Homo sapiens: one gene and its partners. The protein of the gene in region 3 purifies or fractionates together with the protein of the main gene of each other region. This does not show direct contact. Each region holds a gene or a part of one and is shown on either strand. Other genes may lie near its edges.

The links.
Region 1: the proteins of CNN2 (region 3) and TRAPPC9 purify together in Homo sapiens (affinity purification with mass spectrometry, with the first as the bait; one large-scale study listed by BioGRID). This does not show direct contact.
Region 2: the proteins of CNN2 (region 3) and OAS1 purify together in Homo sapiens (co-immunoprecipitation; one large-scale study listed by IntAct). This does not show direct contact.

Annotation. Positions count from the first base shown.
Region 1 is NC_000008.11:140,437,157-140,440,807, forward strand, and holds part of TRAPPC9 (trafficking protein particle complex subunit 9), read right to left. Parts: intron 2,042-3,651; coding exon 1,896-2,041; intron 1-1,895. UniProt on the Homo sapiens protein: Functions as an activator of NF-kappa-B through increased phosphorylation of the IKK complex. May function in neuronal cells differentiation. May play a role in vesicular transport from endoplasmic reticulum to Golgi.
Region 2 is NC_000012.12:112,913,427-112,917,077, forward strand, and holds part of OAS1 (2'-5'-oligoadenylate synthase 1), read left to right. Parts: intron 1-3,082; coding exon 3,083-3,312; intron 3,313-3,651.
Region 3 is NC_000019.10:1,033,059-1,036,709, forward strand, and holds part of CNN2 (calponin-2), read left to right. Parts: intron 1-3,008; coding exon of another isoform or gene 3,009-3,071; coding exon 3,072-3,188; intron 3,189-3,357; coding exon 3,358-3,504; intron 3,505-3,651. UniProt on the Homo sapiens protein: Thin filament-associated protein that is implicated in the regulation and modulation of smooth muscle contraction. It is capable of binding to actin, calmodulin and tropomyosin. The interaction of calponin with actin inhibits the actomyosin Mg-ATPase activity.

The DNA of each region.
Region 1 (3,651 bases), on a different chromosome or scaffold from region 3:
TTTATTTTGGTAGAAGTGAGGTCTCCCTATGTTGCTCAGGCTGGTCTCCACCCAGTTAATGTTTTTTAATTTTGTTTTGTAGAAGTGAGGTGAAGTAAGATTTTTTTATTTTTTATTTTTTGTAGAAGTGTTGGGATTACAGGCATGAGCCACCATGCCTGGCCGTTTGAAGTATTTCTTATATTTGGCTGGGCACAGTGGCTTATGCCTGTAATCCCAGCACTCTGGGAGGCCAAGGCAGGCATATCAGCTGAGGTCGAGTTCAAGAGCAGCTCGGCCAACATCGCAAAACCCCGTCTCTACTAAAAATAGAAAATTTAGCCGGGTGTGGTAGTGCATGCCTGTAAGTCCCAGCTACTCGGAAGGCTGAGGCAGGAGAATCGCTTGAACCCAGGAGGCGGAGATTGCAGTGAGCCAAGATCATGCCACTGCACTCCAGCCTGGGCAACAGAGCGAGACTCCGTCCCCAAGAACGAAAGAATTTGTTATATTTAATATGTTCTACGGCACCTCGTTAAACTTCTGTTACAGAACTCACCTCATTACTTCATTCCGACTTGTATTATCATAAGTGGCTGACAGGTGTCCTTGCTAAACTGTCAACCTCAACGAAAGAACCCTGTTTTAGTCCTTACCCACACAATGGACTCAGCCAGTCCATCCTCCCAGGACCACCTCCAGGAGGCGCAGTCCCCAAAGGGAAGACCACACACAGACATCCGATTCCACCACGAAGTGTCAGCAACATCTCAGGCAGGGCACCCGCTCTGCCGACTGCTGCGGGGGATCAGAGATGGCTGTGCTTTGAAGTAGGATTTCTTCTTCCCTTTCTTTTAATTTTTAAGATTGACATAGAGTTCACATACCATATAATTCACCCACTTAAAGTGTGCAAGTCAGCAGTTTTTAGTATATTCACAACTGTGCAACCATCACCACTAACTGACTCTGGAACATTTTCATCACCCCAGAAAGAAACCTTATGCCCGTTAACTGTCACTTCCCATTCCCCCTCCTCCCAGCCCCTAGAACCAGTTGTCTACTTTCTGCTTCTATAGATTTGCCTATTCTAGCCACTTCATATATATAGAATCATACAATCTGCGGCCTTTTTCATGCCTGCCTTCTCTCACTTAGCACAAAGTTGTCAAGGTTCATCCGTGCTGCAGTGGTATCACAATTTCACTCCTTTTCATGGCTGAATAATATTCCGCTGTATGCCCATACCACATTTCGTTTATCCATTCATCATGTGACACATGGAGGAGGTTTTGAGGGAGGAGTCTAAGAGGTGAAGATCATGGGGAACGGCATCCAAAGCAGAGGGCAAGGTATACTAAGAACAGAGGAAAAGGGAAAGTGTGGGCAGGGCCTCCTTCAGAGGACGCATGGCAGGGTGGGAGGAGGGCAGCAGATACAGCAGGGAAGCATCCCAGGCCACTGCTCGTGGCAACCAGCACAGGCTGGCTGCTTTTCCTCCCTCATCCCTTCTTTTTGGGGAATTTCTTCTGCCGTTTCCTCTCATTTCTTTTTTTATTTTATTTTATTTTTTTTTGAGATGGAGTCTCGCTCTGTTGCCAGGCTGGAGTGCAGTTGTGCAACCTCTGCTCACTGCAACTTCTGCCTCCTGGTTCAAGAAATTCTGCTGCCTCCGCCTCCCGAGTAGCTGGGACTATAGGCGCGTGCCACCACGCCCAGCTAATTTTTGTATTTTTAGTAGAGACGTGGTTTCACCATGTTGGCCAGGATGGTCTCAATCTCTTGACCTCATATTTGGCCTGCCGTAGCCTCCCAAAGTGCTGGGATTACAGGCGTGAGCCACCGCACCCAGCCTCTCATTTTAATTAACAGTTGAAACAATTACATATCAGATCATCTTCATCAGCTCATCTTACCTCCAAGCCACAGAAAGTCATTCACAGAACGCAGCAGCTCCACCGACATGTGGTAATGCACCAGGGAGTCCTGCAGCATCCCTGCCTGCAGGCACAGGTCCCCCACGTGCTTCCGCATGCGGCCTTGGCACCGCTTCTTGTAATGTCTAGAAAATACATGAAAATGTATCTTTATTACTATACAACTCCCACCCAGAAAGCACTCTGACTAAGCACTATTCAATTCTCTCACTACTAAAAATGCTAAGAAGGCAACTGTAGGCTCTATAATTTTAAGTCAGCAATAATCATTGCCAGTTATGTGAGCTGGAGTGGTCTTAATTTCAAAAATGTACTGCCAAGCAATTTGTTTAAAGGTGATCGGTACGTAAGGACTTCTACCATGTCTTTCACGTAGGCAATGTTACAGTTGGATTTTTCTTTTTAGATTTTCCAGTTGTAACATTAGCATAAGGAAGTTTATGTTTCAGCTTTTTAAAAAAATCAATTATCTTCCACTTCTTAACATCAAACCTCTTATTATTTTATAAAGACAGCTATGCTGAGTCTTATTAGCCAACCATTTGGCTTTAGCAAACAAGACGTTCATCCTCGCTATTTCAGGGCAAGCTTTAGGAAAGCTTCCAGAGAGCAGGGCCTGGGGTGCTCACTAACAGCTCTTTAAATATTGGCAAGGATATACCACTAAATAATGCAAAGGCTTCTGAGTCCCTAATCAACTCAGAAACCAAAGAAACTGTACCAAAGTATTCCTTTTATCATTTTTAAATACATCTAACCTTTAAATGTTATATTTCTTAAGATAGATGATTTTTTTTTTAAAGAAAAACTGCAGCTGGATTAAACTTTCCCTCATCAAGAAAGCAAACTTATCAAGAATAAAACTCCTCTGGAAATCCAGAAGATGTGACGTTTCTAAGTAAATGAATGTTATTGACACATCTCAATACAATGTTAAATCCTATCATGTGTAACTCTAACGAGTTCAACAAACTCTTTGTTACTCTGGAATTTAGCATTTCCATTCTGAATAAGTTTTAAACAAAGATCACAACGTAAGGCAGACGCAGAAAGAAAAAGAAACGCCAGCCTTCGTTTGTCTCCTTCCTGGCCACAAGGCAGTGTCAGGATGGCCCCTGCTAACAGACCCTCCCCATAAGAAAATACAGCATCTAGCAGGGTGCAGTGGCTCACGCCTGTAATCCCAGCACTTTGGGAGACCGAGGCGGGCGGATCACAAGGTCAGGAGATCGAGACCATCCTGGCTAACACGGTGAAACCCCATCTCTACTAAAAATACAAAAAATTAGCCGGGCGTGGTGGCACGCGCCTGTAGTCCCAGCTACTCAGGAGGCTGAGGCAGGAGAATCACTTGAACCCGGGAGGCGGAGGTTGCAGTGAGCCGAGATCATGCCACTGCACTCCAGCCTGGGGGACAGGGTGAGACTCCCAAAAAAAAAAGAAAAGAAAAGAAAGGCATCTGAGCTGCTCTTCCCATCCCAACAGCAGTCACCTCAGCAGCCTCCGCCTAGTCTCTGACTCCTCACCCTGCACCCCCTTCCCCTTCATTGCTTCTATACACACACAGCCAGAGTGTCCTTCCCAAAGCACAAATCAGTCTGTGTCCCTCCCCCACTGCAAACCTTTCACAGGATGCTCAATTCAGTCGTAGGGAGAGGCATGCAGTCCATAGCTAGCCCCTCCCACGGCTCTGGCTTCCCCTCCTACCACTGTGGCTTTGCACTCCACAGGCAAC
Region 2 (3,651 bases), on a different chromosome or scaffold from region 3:
TCTAAAATATTGATTCTCCTTCATTCTCTCCTCACCTTCTAGAATTCCAATTAAATGTATGTTAGACCCTGCTCTATCTTTCATATCTCTATACTCTCTTCTGTGTTTTTCATCCTTTTGTCTATTTTTCCATGCTTTATTCTGAATAGTTCCTTCTAATCTACCTTCCAATTAACTAATTTTCTCTTTAGCTATATCTAATTTGCTGTAATTAATTACAGTTGCCATTTTTATCCTAAAATTTCTATTTCATATTTTTGTATCTGCCATGGTACTTCTTATGGCTTTTAATTCCCTGCTAACTATTTAAAGTTCTTATTTTATCCTGTGAATATGATATTCCTAGTTATTTTATTTTTAATTTTTATTATTTGTTAATCTTATGTTTTATTTACACTTCTTTTCTGTGACATGAGCACACACAGATTCATGTGTATACATATATGGCTCTGATACCTCTCCTTTCCTGTCCTCATTCAAACCACTGATCACAGAGAGAGGACTATTTTTTTTTATTTTTAATTTTTCTATTTCAATAGGTTTTTGGGGGAACAGGTGGTGTTTGGTTACATGAATAAGTTCTTTAGTGGTGATTTTGGTGCACCCATCACCCAAACAGTGTACATTGTACCCAATGTGTAATCTTTTAACCCTTGCCACACCCCACCCTTTCCCCGCAGTCCGCAAAGTCCCATGTATCATTCTTATGCCTTTGCTTCCTCATAGCTTAGCTCCCACATATGAGTGAGAACATACAATGTTTGGTTTTCCATTCCTGAGTTATTTAATTAAAATAATAGTATCCAATTCCATCCAGGTTGCTGTGAATGCCATTATTTTGTTCCTTTTTATGGTTGAGTAGTATTCCATGGTGTGTTTGTGTGTGTATAACATTTTTCTTTATCCACTCATTGATTGATGGGCATTTGGGCTGGTTCCATATTTTTGCAATTGCAAATTGTGCTGTTATAAACATGTGTGTGCAAGTATCTTTTTTGTATAATGACTTCTTTTCCTCTGGGTAGATACCTAGTAGTGGGATTGCTGGATCAAATGGTAGATCTACTTTTAGTTCTATAAGGAATCTCCACACTGTTTTCCATAGTGGTTGTATGAGTTTACATTCCCACCAATGGTGTAAAAGTGTTCCCTTTTCACCACATCCACACCAACATCTATTATTGTTTGATTTTTTATTATGACCATTCTTGCAGGAGTGAGGTGGTATCACATTGTGGTTTTGATTTGCATTTCCCTGATAATTAGGGATGTTGAGCATTTTTCCATATGCTTGTTGGTATTTGTTTTTTTTTTTTTTTTTTCATTATTATACTTTAAGTTTTAGGGTACATGTGCACAATGTGCAGGTTAGTTACATATGTATACATGTGCCATGCTGGTGTGCTGCACCCATTAACCCGTCATTTAGCATTAGGTATATCTCCTAATGCTATCCCTCCCCAATTCCCCCCACCCCGCTTGTTGGTATTTGTATATCTTCATTTGAGAATTCTCTGTTCATGTCCTTAGCCCACTTTTTGATGAGATTTTTTTTTTCTTGCTGATTCGTTTGAGTTCTTTGTAGATTCTGGATATTAGTTGGATGTATAGATTGTGAAGATTTTCTCCCATTCTGTGGGTTGTCTGTTAACTCTGCTAATTATTTCTTTTGCTTTGCAGAAGCTTTTTAGTTTAATTAAGTCCCATCTATTTATCTTTGTTTTTGTTGCATTTGCTTTTGGGTTCTTGGTCATGAAGTCTTTGCCTAAGCCAATGTGTAGGAGGGTTTTTCCAATATTATCTTCTAGAATCTTTATGGTTTCAGGTCTTAGATTTAAGTATTTGATCGATTTTGAGTTGAATTTTGTATAAGGGGAGAGAGAAGGATTCAGTTTCATTCTTCTACATGCAACTTGCCAATTATCCTAGGACCATTTGTTGAATAGGGTGTCCTTTCCCCATTTTATGTTTTTGTTTGGTTTGTCAAAGATCAGTTGGCTGTAAGTGTTTGGCTTTATTTCTGGGTTATCTATTCTGTTCCATTTGTCTACGTGACTATTTTTATACCAGTACCATGTTGTTTTGGTGACTATGGCCTTACAGTATAGTTTGAAGTCTGATAATGTAATGCCTCCAGATTTGTTCTTTTTACTTAGTCTTGCTTTGGCTATGTGAGCTCTTTTTTGGTGCCATATGAATTTTAGGATTGTTTTTTCTAGTTCTGTGAAGAATGATGGTGGTATTTTGATGGGAATTGCATTGAATTTGTAGATTGTTTTTGGGAGTATGGTCATTTTCACAATATTGATTCTACCCATTCATGAGCATGGGATGTGTTTCCATTTGTTTGTGTCATCTATGATTTTCTTTCAGCAATGTTTTGTAGTTTTCCTTGTAGAGTTCCTAGTTATTTTAAAGTCTGTGTTCGGTCTTTCAGCATTTAAAGTTTGTAGGTTTATTACTATTTCTCTTCTTTCTGTTGGTCATAACTCTTAGTGTTTTGTTTCCTTGTGTGCCTGGTTACATATGTGCTGGTCATTGTATTTGAAAATTATGTGTGAAATAATTTGAGGTTTTGGATTATGTATATTCCTCCAGAAAGAATTTCATTTGCTTCTGTGCATTTCTTAGGAACATTACAAGTCCTTCTTCTCAGTTAATTTTCGTAGTATCTTTATCAGATAGGTGCTATTACAACCACTCACTTAGCAGATGAAAATCATGAGGCTCTGAGAGTCTAAGTCATCTACTTAGAATTGGACAATGGTGAAGCCAGGATTCAAACCCACATCAATAAGAATCCAGCGCTCTTAACAAGGGGCCAGTACACTTTTTTAAAAAATAAAAGGCTAGATAGTAAATATTTTAGACTTTGTGGACTGCACAGCCTCTGTTGCAACTACTCAACCCTGCCTTTGTAGCATGAATGCAGTCATAAACTATACATAAATGAATGAGCCTGGATTCGTTCCAAGGAAACTTTATAAAAACAGGTGGCAGGCTGGATTTGGCCCATGAGAAGTGTAGTTTACACAAAAGTTGAGCAAACCAATTTTTTTCTGATTGTTTTTCCTCTTCTCAGTGTAAGAAGAAGCTTGGGAAGCTGCCACCTCAGTATGCCCTGGAGCTCCTGACGGTCTATGCTTGGGAGCGAGGGAGCATGAAAACACATTTCAACACAGCCCAGGGATTTCGGACGGTCTTGGAATTAGTCATAAACTACCAGCAACTCTGCATCTACTGGACAAAGTATTATGACTTTAAAAACCCCATTATTGAAAAGTACCTGAGAAGGCAGCTCACGAAACCCAGGTATGCTATCCCCACATGGCTTAGCTCCCCTATGTAAATGAACACCTGGATACAGGTACAGTGCCTTGGAAATGGAGGAGGTGGGAGGGCTCCCCACTTAGTGAGAATCTCCTGTTGCCCATCATTGTACTGGGCATTTTACTACTGCCATCTGTTTTAAACACCTACCTCCAACCCTGTGAGGCAGGCACTATGCCAATTATTTTACAGGTGAGTAAACTGAGGTTCTGAGAGGTAAGGAGCTTGTCCAACCCTTAACAGAAAATGAGTAAAATAGCTGCAGTTTGAACTGAAATAAGAACAGCAGCAACAACAATGATAGTAATTGCTCCCAGGTAT
Region 3 (3,651 bases):
ATGAGCCCCTGTGCCCGGCCTCGTTTACAAATATTTCTGAGCATCCGTGAGGTGCCAGGTACTTCAGATTCCTTGGTGAACAGGAAGGACATGGTCTACCCCTTATGCAGTTCAGTCTGATGGCGGAGGCATGCAAAAGTGAACACAGCATTGTATTATGCATTATATGTAAGCTCTGGCCGGGCGCAGTGGCTCACACCTGTAATCCCAGCACTTTGGGAGGCCGAGGTTGGAGAATTGCTTGACACCAGGAGTTCGAGACCAGCCTGGCCAACATGGTGAAACCCCATCTCTACTAAGAAAACAAAAATTACCTGGGCGTGGTGGTGCATGCCTGTAATCCCAGCTACTCGGGAGGCTGAGCCCAGGAGTTAAGAGGTTGCAGTGAGCTATGACCACACCACTGCTCTCCAGCCTGGGCAACAGAGCAAGACTCTCTCAAAAAATAATCATAACAAAAGTAATAAATAAGCTCTGAACTGGGAGAAATGCCTTGAAGGAGAAGAATCAGACGAATGTTGAGTGTCTAGTGATCTTCAAACCCAGACCGGGAGCGTGGGTGGGACAGTGGTGTAGACCGGGAGCGTGGGTGGGACAGTGTCTGGTGTAGACCGGGAGCGTGGGTGGGACACGGTGTCTGGTGTAGACCGGGAGCGTGGGTGGGACACGGTGTCTGGTGTAGACGGGGAGCGTGGGTGGGACGGTGTCTGGTGTAGACCGGGAGCGTGGGTGGGACACGGTGTCTGGTGTAGACGGGGAGCGTGGGTGGGACGGTGTCTGGTGTAGACCGGCAGCGTGGGTGGGACACGGTGTCTGGTGTAGACCGGGAGCGTGGGTGGGACGGTGTCTGGTGTAGACCGGGAGCGTGGGTGGGACACGGTGTCTGGTGTAGACGGGGAGCGTGGGTGGGACGGTGTCTGGTGTAGACCGGCAGCGTGGGTGGGACACGGTGTCTGGTGTAGACGGGGAGCGTGGGTGGGACGGTGTCTGGTGTAGACCGGGAGCGTGGGTGGGACACGGTGTCTGGTGTAGACCGGGAGCGTGGGTGGGACGGTGTCTGGTGTAGACCGGGAGCGTGGGTGGGACACATTGTCTGGTGTAGACCGGGAGCGTGGGTGGGACGGTGTCTGGTGTAGACCGGGAGCGTGGGTGGGACACGGTGTCTGGTGTAGACGGTAAGCGTGGGTGGGACACGGTGTCTGGTGTAGACCGGGAGCGTGGGTGGGACGGTGTCTGGTGTAGACCGGGAGCGTGGGTGGGACACGGTGTCTGGTGTAGACCGGGAGCGTGGGTGGGACACGGTGTCTGGTGTAGACCGGGAGCGTGGGTGGGACGGTGTCTGGTGTAGACCGGGAGCGTGGGTGGGACACGGTGTCTGGTGTAGACGGGGAGCGTGGGTGGGACGGTGTCTGGTGTAGACCGGCAGCGTGGGTGGGACACGGTGTCTGGTGTAGACCGGGAGCGTGGGTGGGACGGTGTCTGGTGTAGACCGGCAGCGTGGGTGGGACACGGTGTCTGGTGTAGACGGGGAGCGTGGGTGGGACGGTGTCTGGTGTAGACCGGCAGCGTGGGTGGGACACGGTGTCTGGTGTAGACGGGGAGCGTGGGTGGGACGGTGTCTGGTGTAGACCGGGAGCGTGGGTGGGACACGGTGTCTGGTGTAGACCGGGAGCGTGGGTGGGACGGTGTCTGGTGTAGACCGGGAGCGTGGGTGGGACACATTGTCTGGTGTAGACCGGGAGCGTGGGTGGGACGGTGTCTGGTGTAGACCGGGAGCATGGGTGGGACACGGTGTCTGGTGTAGACGGTAAGCGTGGGTGGGACACGGTGTCTGGTGTAGACCGGGAGCGTGGGTGGGACGGTGTCTGGTGTAGACCGGGAGCGTGGGTGGGACACGGTGTCTGGTGTAGACCGGGAGCGTGGGTGGGACGGTGTCTGGTGTAGACCGGGAGCGTGGGTGGGACACGGTGTCTGGTGTAGACCGGGAGCGTGGGTGGGACGGTGTCTGGTGTATACCGGGAGCGTGGGTGGGACACGGTGTCTGGTGTAGACGGGGAGCGTGGGTGGGACACGGTGTCTGGTGTAGACGGGGAGCGTGGGTGGGACGGTGTCTGGTGTAGACGGGGAGCGTGGGTGGGACACGGTGTCTGGTGTAGACCGGGAGCGTGGGTGGGACACGGTGTCTGGTGTAGAATGGAATGGGAGTGTGTGTTTGTGACATGGTGTCTCACGTAGAAGGAACAGCAAGGTCTTGACATTGGAATTGGCTGGGCTGTTAGAGGAAGCGGGAGCTGGTTTTCTCCTGGGGTAACTGCTCCAAATGGTGTTTTCAGATGCCCCCTGTGGCTCCCAGTAACCTCACGTGGGGAATGGTGGTCAGGGAGGAGCCGGGCGCAGACATCCCAGTGAGGGGCAGAGCCAATGGCCTGGCCATGGTGCCCGGGGATTGGGTCAGAGGAGGTGGTGGAAGGTGAGAGAGAGGAAGCGAAAACCACGTCCCCATCCCCAGAATTCTTGGCCTGAGCCCTGGAAAGCTGAGCTGTTGCCTAAGACAAGGCACGCTGGGATGAAGCAGCCCCATGGGCTGGGCGCGGTGGCTCACGCCTGTAATCCCAGCACTTTTGGAGGTTGAGGCGGGTGGATAACTTGAGGCCAGGAGTTCAAGACCAGCCTGGCAACATGGTGAAACCCCGTCTCTACTAAAAATACAAAAATTAGCCTGGCGTGGTGGCACACGCCTGTAATCCTAGCTACTTGGGAGGCTGAGGCAGGAGAATTGCTTGAACCTGGGAGGAGGGGGTTGCAGTGAGCGGAGATCACACCACTGCACTCCAGCCTGGGTGACAGAGCCAGACTCCATCTCAAAAATAAAAATAAAAAACTGAAACAGCTGTATGATGGGTGTGTGGAGTGTGTGGAGTCCCAGACACCCGAGAGATGTGCCTGTGGGGGCTCTGCGCGGCAGGCAGAGGTGACAGGCCGCGGCCTGGTCTCTGTCCCGCCCCCAGGGCCTAGATCTAGGGTCCCTGGCTGCCCTCTGCTGGTACTCCCGGCCCCTTTCCCTCACCCAGGCCAAGACTAAGGGGCTGCAGAGCGGGGTGGACATTGGCGTCAAGTACTCGGAGAAGCAGGAGCGGAATTTCGACGATGCCACCATGAAGGCTGGCCAGTGCGTCATCGGGCTGCAGGTGGGCGACAGCTCCCCCAGCCCCAGGGACCACGGCATTGGGGGACCACGGTGTTGGGGGACAGCAGCATTGGGGGACAGCGGCATGGAGCCCTGTGGTCCCTCAATTTCAGGGAGGGACCGGAAGCTTGTTGGGTGCAGTCTGACCTCTCCCACGAACCTCCCTGCAGATGGGCACCAACAAATGCGCCAGCCAGTCGGGCATGACTGCCTACGGCACGAGAAGGCATCTCTATGACCCCAAGAACCATATCCTGCCCCCCATGGACCACTCGACCATCAGCCTCCAGATGGGCACGAACAAGTGTGCCAGCCAGGTGGGGCTCGCCCGGGTGCCCCCGACTCCTCTCCCTGCCCCTCTACACCCTGTGGTCTCGGCCCCTCCCTGGGGCCACCTCCAGCTTCTCTCCCCACTCTCAGTCTCAGCCCCTTCCCTAGACCACCTCCGGCTTCCCTCCCCGCTC